Linked DNA regions of Homo sapiens: all the other regions are linked to region 1. The links come from fine-mapping of genetic effects on gene expression. A gene starts in region 1. Each other region holds a variant in brackets. All regions are shown on one strand. Distances are between the middles of the regions. Region 1 holds the start of GLRX (glutaredoxin). Region 2 overlaps LINC01554 (long intergenic non-protein coding RNA 1554). Region 3 overlaps LOC124901029 (a long non-coding RNA gene).

Evidence for each region. PIP is the estimated chance that this variant, and not a neighbour inherited with it, causes the effect.
Region 2: its variant is fine-mapped to the expression of GLRX in whole blood (INTERVAL, PIP above 0.99).
Region 3: its variant is fine-mapped to the expression of GLRX in lung (TOPMed, PIP 0.98).

The regions. Positions count from the first base shown.
Region 1 is chr5:95,821,065-95,823,827 of GRCh38, reverse strand. GLRX (glutaredoxin) reads left to right here and starts at 1,102. Exons shown (of 3, transcript NM_001118890.2): 1 at 1,102-1,372. The coding sequence starts at 1,166. RefSeq lists enhancers at 1-354, 585-674, 2,591-2,730.
Region 2 is chr5:95,855,031-95,857,793 of GRCh38, reverse strand. LINC01554 (long intergenic non-protein coding RNA 1554) reads right to left here. Exons shown (of 3, transcript NR_026936.1): 2 at 813-916. Among named protein-coding and RNA genes, the nearest start is that of LINC01554, 4.2 kb to the right of the region's middle. The variant A/CCCCCA (reference allele first, on the strand shown) is at 1,161.
Region 3 is chr5:95,845,227-95,847,989 of GRCh38, reverse strand. The region is part of intron 1 of LOC124901029 (a long non-coding RNA gene); the gene reads left to right. The region is part of intron 2 of LOC102724720 (a long non-coding RNA gene); the gene reads right to left. Among named protein-coding and RNA genes, the nearest start is that of LINC01554, 5.6 kb to the left of the region's middle. RefSeq lists an enhancer at 877-926. The variant G/AG (reference allele first, on the strand shown) is at 1,217.

The sequences.
Region 1 (2,763 bases):
GGATGATTCACGTTTAAAGGACATAGTTTTTCCTTGATTTGTTTATTTAAGCTACCATACACTAGAGGGGGCCGGAACTAGACCCAGGAGTAGAGGACTTTGCTTTGCGGGATAAGGAGAATGGGCACCCTGGGGAAGAGCGAAAGATTTCCTACTGTTACAACCCGTGTCTTATAACACTTGAAGTGAATGTGGTGTCTGAGTTACAACACTACTTCCCCTCACAAACAGTTAAAAGCAGAGGGTCACAAACATAGGCTCAACCAGAAAAAAAGATTCTCATTTCATCTGTAGTTTTGTATCAAGGATTGTGTTGGAATTTGCCTCCATATTAAACTGCTGTTCAAGGGTTACCAACTCAAATGGTTATGGGGTGAAGCCGGTGTCTCAGGCATGGGCCTGTCGTTGGGACCTGTGGCAAACCAAAGCCACTACTTGCCCTATACAAAGGGGGCAACAGCTGTCAGCCCCAGCAGCTTCCACTAAAAGGTGCAAGCTCTGTATTGCCCGACCTGACTTTTCAGAGAGAAGTTTTAAGTCCGAATTGTTTTGTGAGACCTCCAGATTTTTAAATACTGAGAATGAATTCCATTAAAAAGATCACAACAACAAACACCCACCATACAGTCCAAGCAAAATGCTGTGAGAGCAACCTTCATGAGGAGTGCAAAGTCACAGTTTCAATTTCACTTCTTCTAAAGAGATTTCCAAGTGTTCTGTTTCTTAAGTGATTCTGTTTGCATTTTAAAATACAACTGTATCTCCTAGAGGGAAAACAAGAATTTGCTCTAAGAAGTCACTGCCTCCTCAGCCCCTTTGTGAGTAAGCACTTTATGCTTCCCCAGAGGTGACTAAACTCTGATCATTGCCAATGGGCAGGCACTCCCCAAATGTCCAAGGACAACAAAGATACCCAGAGTGTCTTTCATAGCTACCAATGATTAAATAGCAAGTATTGCATTCCTGGGCATTGCTAACTAGTGAAGTATACCAGATGGAAATGTCTTCGAAGCTGTCCCTTTAAAACTCGAGCAAGCTACCAGGCAAACTCCGCCTCCAGGGAGGTTCCTTATTAAATAGGAGCCAACTGGCTGGGTCGGGGCTCAATACCCCAAGCAATACCTGCAACTGAGGATTCTTCCCGGGGAGACCGCAGCCCATCGGCATGGCTCAAGAGTTTGTGAACTGCAAAATCCAGCCTGGGAAGGTGGTTGTGTTCATCAAGCCCACCTGCCCGTACTGCAGGAGGGCCCAAGAGATCCTCAGTCAATTGCCCATCAAACAAGGGCTTCTGGAATTTGTCGATATCACAGCCACCAACCACACTAACGAGATTCAAGATTATTTGCAACAGCTCACGGGAGCAAGAACGGTGAGTTTCATTTTAAACGGCTAGGGAAAGGCTCCCGGATTGCCTTTTCTTGTCAGAGCTGTGCCTTTCTTTAGGATAAGGCTGCGGCTCCGTACTTCAAGGCGTCCAGAGGGCTGTGCGGGGCGGGGGGTGTGGGGGAGGGCGCCTTAGAGAGGATCTCGGTCACTTGAATGAGCGGCGGCACTGCAGCCAAAGGTCTTCACGGGGCAGAAGAGGGAGTACAGCTGATGTCTGCTGTGCGGCAGGGTAAGTGGGACCAGCAGCTTGCCGGTGAGTCCCTGGGGAATTATCTAGAGTCTTTGTTTTAAGCACTGCCAGGAAATGACAGTTTTCAGTTGGCAGGGCTGGAGGTGGAAGCTGGGGTGGAGGGCCGGGTGTGATGTGTTTGTTATTTAACATGAGATTCATGTTCTTCATTCTTTTCTCTAGGCTTTCTTTTTCTAATTTGCTCATTCTTCCTTATCTAATTCCTCCCACTGGAAAAATCTAATGTACCGTTATCTGCCCCTTGTTCTAAATTAATTATGGATGTTTCCAGGCCCCACATTGTAGGGAATCATAGCCTGGAGTTCTGGCCTGGCTCTTATAATGGCTGGCTGTGTGATCCTGGGCAAGTCACCACCCCAGTAGTCCTCAAAGATCCCAGCTGCAAGACCAGATTAGGTGACCTCAGAGTCCCATTTGCTACGAATAGACTGTGGGACCCTCTAAAAATTGCTCTCCTCCATCCGAAAGACTTCCCTCTCTTCAGCATCCTTGGCTTTGCGTCCTGGGCTTCAGGAGGGATGCCAGCCACATCACCTGTATCAGTTCTGCTGTGAGGTGGGATGAGAAATGTCCCACCAGCTCAGCTAAGTTCTCTTTTACGATGCACGAATTCTACAGCACAGTGTTAGGCCAAGCACATATCCTATTTCAGTTTTAGTTTGACTTACAAGGTTGTCTCTGGGTTCTGAGTATAAAGCATTGGAGGTTGTTTCTCTCCCCTTCTCTCTAATAAGAAGTCAGCATTTTGGTGCAGAAAGGGGGCTTAGTGTGTTATCCTACTGCTGTGTGCTGAGGTCCTGGAGTATACACAATGACGAGAGAAGCTCTTGCTGCCTAGTGGGACCACCAGCTGCATAGGATGCCCAGGCCCTGAGAGGTGTAAAGGGCAGTGCAAACACTACTACGGGCCCCACTGTGGCTGCCACCCTGAGGACCTTTTAGCCATTGGTTCCCAAACTTTGCTGCACATTAGGATCACCTAGAGAGCTTTTAAAACAATCCTTATGCCCAAATTATGCCCCTCAATAACTAAATCACAATGTCAGAGGTGGGAGCCAAGCATTAGTTTTGTTTGTTCGTTTGTTTTGAGACAGTTTCATTCTTGTCACCCAGGCTGGAGTGCA
Region 2 (2,763 bases), 34 kb before region 1:
AGAGGGGTAAGTTCCCTGCCTAAGGTTACACAGCTCAGGAGTAAGGGGAGGACTCAGGTCTCTGCGGGCCAAAGGCCAGGCTCCTGATGCTGACCCTCCTGCTTCCCTGCCATTAGTGCCCTGCGAGGCCCGGACCTGCCCTCTATTTTCCCGCTCATTTTAGGGCCACAGTGACTCACCAGCCATGTGCCCATACCACTCATTTTCACAGAGCCCTGGAGTATGAGAGCAGGGCTTGAGGAAAGAGCTTTCGTTCACTTTGTTTTGAGCCAGGACAACAGACTGGGAAGTGGTTGGAACACACAGTTCTGGGTCAGAGGTCAGAGAACAGACAGGACTCCAAAGGCTAAAACAAACAAGATTTCTCACAGCAGCTCTGGCCGCGTTGAGACCCACGGGCTGGGGCTGGCCAGTCTGTCCCCACGTGGGATAGACTGTGTCCAGAAGGGTGGCCTGGCCTGCTCCTGGCTAGAGCAGATGAGGAAACCACTGTCCTGGATTCAGCTCCCAGTTCTGCCACATTCCAGCTGAGGGCCTGTGGGACAGTCGTGAAGAGCCACATATGGCAATGTCATCTCTCAGGAACCCAAGACGCCAAGGCCCCTCACTGTAATGTGGCAATAACGCCAGCTAGCATGCAGAACTGTTGTGGGGTAATGAATGGAAGCTAATGTATGAGAAGGAGCTGTTACACTCCAGGACTCTAGATACCAAATTTTATGGTTATCAGTTTCACAGCAAAAAAAAAAAAAAAAAAAAAAGAAAGTACTCTTATTCTCAAATTATTCTTATTAGTTCTGGTGTGCACTTACATGAGAAATGGCAAAGGGATATTCTGCTTGCAGTCTTTTGCCCTCTGGCAAAAACTTTCCAGACAGGGTGTCATCGTGTGCAGCTTCCGTGATGCAGTTTGATCCTGATAGGTAACAAGAGTGACACGTTTTATCAGAATCTTTTTACATGGCTCAAGGTCACTTCCACCGACACCAGTGCTATTAATATTTCCCCCATTAAGCCAACCCGTCCTAAGAGCCAAAGAGAATACCATAGTTCCAGGTTTCGGTTTGAAGGTGCTGATGGATGAGAGTAGAAGGGAGTGAATGAGGAAGCCCAGACCTTCCTGCAGGAGCAGGGAAGCAAGACCCAGGCCAGCACTGCCC[A/CCCCCA]CCCCCCAATAGCCTTCCCAAGGGTGAGGGGCAGCCATGCGGAAACTGGCACTCACTAGGCCAAGACAGCACAGGCCTCCAACCTTCAGACAAAAGCCTTTTGTCTGGGAGGTGCTGGGGGACACCACACAATGCTGTTTCTTTCTAAATTATTTTTTTCCCCTGAATGCTATCTAGATCCTGGAAATCTATTTCCATGAAATGATTTTAAAATATCCTATATGATAATTGAACGCTTGTCATCAACATGAATGTCCAACATTAGGGGCATGGTTAAGTATAGAATGTTGTATCCCATGATGTTTATAAGAGTTTATAAACATGTGGAGGAAGGGTACAATAGCATAAAGGAAGGCTTGTGTTAGGCTCACATATGAAAAATAAAGAAACAAGAAAAAAAGCTGCAGGCAGGAGTGTACAATGGTAGGAGCTGACGGTACAAAAGATAAATGCTGAAACTATTCTGTAGGATACTGAAATGATGGATACTGACCTGCATTCGTCAAAACCCACAGAACTGTACAACACAGAGAATAAACCTTAAAGTAAATGATAGACTTTATTTAATAATAATGTATGAATATTGGTTCACTAATTGTAACAAATATATGGCACTAATACAAGTTCTTTGTTACACGATGTTAATAATAGGGAAGGGAATATGTTCAGGGAAGGAGGGCAGAGGGAAACAGCTGTCCTAGCTGCTCAATTTTACTATAAACTTTAAACTGTTCTAAAAAATGAAGTGTATTAATTTTCTTAAAACTAAAAATAAATAAAGAAATAACCAGAAGGCAATAAATCAAAATATGAATAGCACTGGTTTTGGATAGTGAGACTATGACTAGCTGCTTTTTCGTTTTTTACTTTTCTGATTTTCTCCATTCTAATTTTATCAATCAGGTAAAACTAATGAAAAGTTTTAAAATCTTGTCTGGGTGACTATTCTCTGAGGCAGGAACTGTGTTGGCTCACAGTGCTCTGTGGTCTAGTTCCCTAAACACAGCAGGAATTTAGTAAGTTTTGCTAATAGCGCATAAGCACTTTTAAATACATCTTCAACTCTGTCTGCCTTGCAGCCTACAAGCTTGTCGCCTCACGGCCCGAGAGAGGACAGCAAATTAAAGTAATAATTGTGAGAGGAACAGATCAGAGCATCTAACGAGTGGTTGGTTGGGTCACTGTAAATTGAAAATCTCTCCTTAAGTGGCTAGAGGCCTGCGTGGGCATGTCGAGAAGCATCTATTAAGTGGCATCAATGGGTAGAGTGGTGGGTGCTGATATAAGACCAAACCCAAGATATCATGTCATCAAACAAGAAGCATGGGCAAGGCTTTGGCATGTAGAAATTGCTGCAATGGGCTGGGTGCGGTGGCTCACGCCTGTAATCCCAGCACTTTGGGAGGCTGGGGCGGGCGGATCATGAGGTCAGGAGATCAAGACCATCCTGGCCAACATGGTGAAACCCCGTTTCTACTAAAAATACAAAAAATTAGCCAGGCATGGTGGCGGGCGCCTGTAGTCCCCAGCTACTCGGGAGGCTGAGGCAGGAGAATGGCGTGAACCCGGAAGGTGGAGCTTGCAGTGAGCCGAGATCAAGCCA
Region 3 (2,763 bases), 24 kb before region 1:
TGAGCTGTGTAATGCAGTTTTTTGTTCCAAACAAGTAGGACCCAAAGTAATGTAATATGATTTTCATGTCACCAGTATAAACTAATACAAAGGCAATTTTAAAAGAGAAGTCCCCAAATTGTCTTGATCAGTGGTGGTTATATTGGCATAAAAGTACTGCCTCTGAAGATGACTCCTTTAGTGGTGATAATTTTTTGGATATGTTTTATTAGGTTTGTGGAAAAGCTCAGTATGACCACAGCATAAGCTATACCTCATATGTACCTCAAATTCGAACATATAGACAACTGCATGGCTTCCCTTGTTGACCATTCTAAGGGTTTGAAGGTAATACAGGTGGCAGAATAAGATTTTATTAGAAGAAAGAGTTCCATGGCTAAGAAAATGTTCAGCACAGGGCTAGTGTATCCTTGAGACTTTTCACAACACAAAGATTCTAAGATTCAATATTCCAAAAGATCTGTGGCAAACTGAATAATTTTCAGAAGTGAGTTTCCACTGAATTAGCCACATTCTTTCTCCTAATTCCTCTTGTAAATGATAGCAATCATTTACAGGCTAATATTAAGCATCTTATCACTGAGAACTCTATAATAAGTCTTCATTATGATGACACTGATATATTTGGAATAATTAGTAAAAGACTAAAAATTATGTCCAGTATAGTTTTTGCTTTAAAGCATATTTTAAATGGGATTGTTTTTGGAGAAAGGGAATCTCTGAAAGCGATTTAACTTAATATTTACCCATTTACACTTCACTGGGAAGATCATTGGTTCATCACATGCACTGTTCTTCACTGCCACTAGGTGGTGCTCCAGCCATAATGTCTCTTCCTGAGCCTCCAGAATCTGTTCACTACATACTGCCCTAGGGTAGGTCCCACTGAACATGGCTGGTCTTGCAAAAATCACATCCAGTGTGAGGTATGTTTCTAAGCTCCCTAAAGTTTACACATAACCCCAGACTGAGGATGACAGTAAAAAAGCCCGCTATTCAGGAAAGCAGAACTCGACCCACAGTGGAAAGAAAACAACTAAGGCAGGTGGGGTAGTAGAGACAAGCCCAGGCTTTTCCCCCTGATGGTGTCTTTAGTAGTAACCTAACCATCTACTGCAGTGGCTGGCCCAGTGACGCTGAAAGGTGAGGCTATGCAAACATCTTCCATGGCCTTCCAACTACCACAGCTTGGCCAACACGAGCACCAGGAAAAAAA[G/AG]ATCTGGGAGACGGACCAATTATGGGGACCTTAGGTCTGTGCCGCCCATCTGTGCCTGGTACCCATGCTTCATATCTATCCAGATTTTATTTGCTTTGGGCTAGCAGCTCACCATATGCCAGCACAGGCGACTTGCCCCAGGAGGGCAGACCTTTCCCTGGACTGTGAACAAAATTTATCTCCCCATTTCCTGAGTTCTTTCAGTTACATTCTGTACCTTACTAGTCAGTTTTGAGTCAGTTTCCAAAAGAAATGCATAGAGGTACAAGCTTCAAAGAAAGACAATCTCCATACGTGGTTCAGTGTACAAACACGGGCAGTGTGTGTGCATAGTCACAAACGCTAAGTGGCACAGAAAAAGAAGCAATCTGCATGAGTCAGGGTATTAAAAAGGCTTCACAGAAGATGTGGCACTTAAAAACAGGACTGCAATGTTGGGAGATGGAAAAGATCTTGGAGAACATCTGGTCTGAGGCTCTGAAATAGTTCATCTGAGTCTTTTTTTTGAGATGGAGTCTCTCTCTGTTGCCCAGGCTGGAGTGAAGTGGTGCAATCTCGGCTCACTGCAACCTCTACCTCCCGAGTTCAAGAGATTCTCCTGCCTCAGCCTCCTGAGTAGCTGGGACTACAGGTGCCCGCCACCACACCTGGCTAATTTTTGTATTTTTAGTAGAGACTAGGTTTTGCCAAGTTGGCCAGGCTGGTCTCGAACTCCTGACCTCAGGTCAGCCGCCCTCCATGGCCTCCCAAAGTGCCGGGATTACAGGCATGAACCACCAGGCCTGGCTGTTCATCTGAGTCTTAAAGGCTCATGAAGGTACCTCAAGAGCCATCCTTGAGGCCAACCAAGGAGGCTTCCAGGTCCCACCCACATTTTAATAGCAACAGTTTTATCTGTTTATTTATGGGGGTTCAGTGTAAGTTCTGTTTGAACAAAGAATTCTACTCCTTTTTTTAAAGTTGGAACCATTGATCTAGTCCAAGCTGCTCATTTTACAGATAAGATCACTGAAGCACATTGAGAACTTTCCCAATCTCACACATGGCTTGAATTGAAAAGGTAGGGAACATTTTGGATATGTAGAAGAAGGGTGATATGGTTTGGCTTTCTGTCCCCATCCAAATCTCATCTTGAATTATAATCCCTAAGTGTTGAGGGAGGAACCAGTGGGAGGTGATTGGATCATGGGCGTGGTTTCCCCCATGCTGTTCTTGTGATAGTGAGAGAGTTCTTATGAGATCTGATGGTTTAAAAATGTAGCACGTCCCCTTCCCTTGCTGTCTCTCTCTCTCCTCCCACCATGTAAGACACGCCTTGCTTCCCCCTTTGCCTTTCACCATGATTGTAAGTTTCCTGCAGCCTCTCCAGCCATGCTCAACTGTGAATCAATTAAACCTCTTTTTTTTTAATAAATTACCCAGTCTCAGGTATTCTTTATAGCAGTGTGAAAATGGACTAATACAAAGGGAGACCAGGGTGTCTGCAGGGAACAAGAAAGAACCACATCTCCATCTGACCCACAGGTTAGAAAAGCATGTTTGTCAAA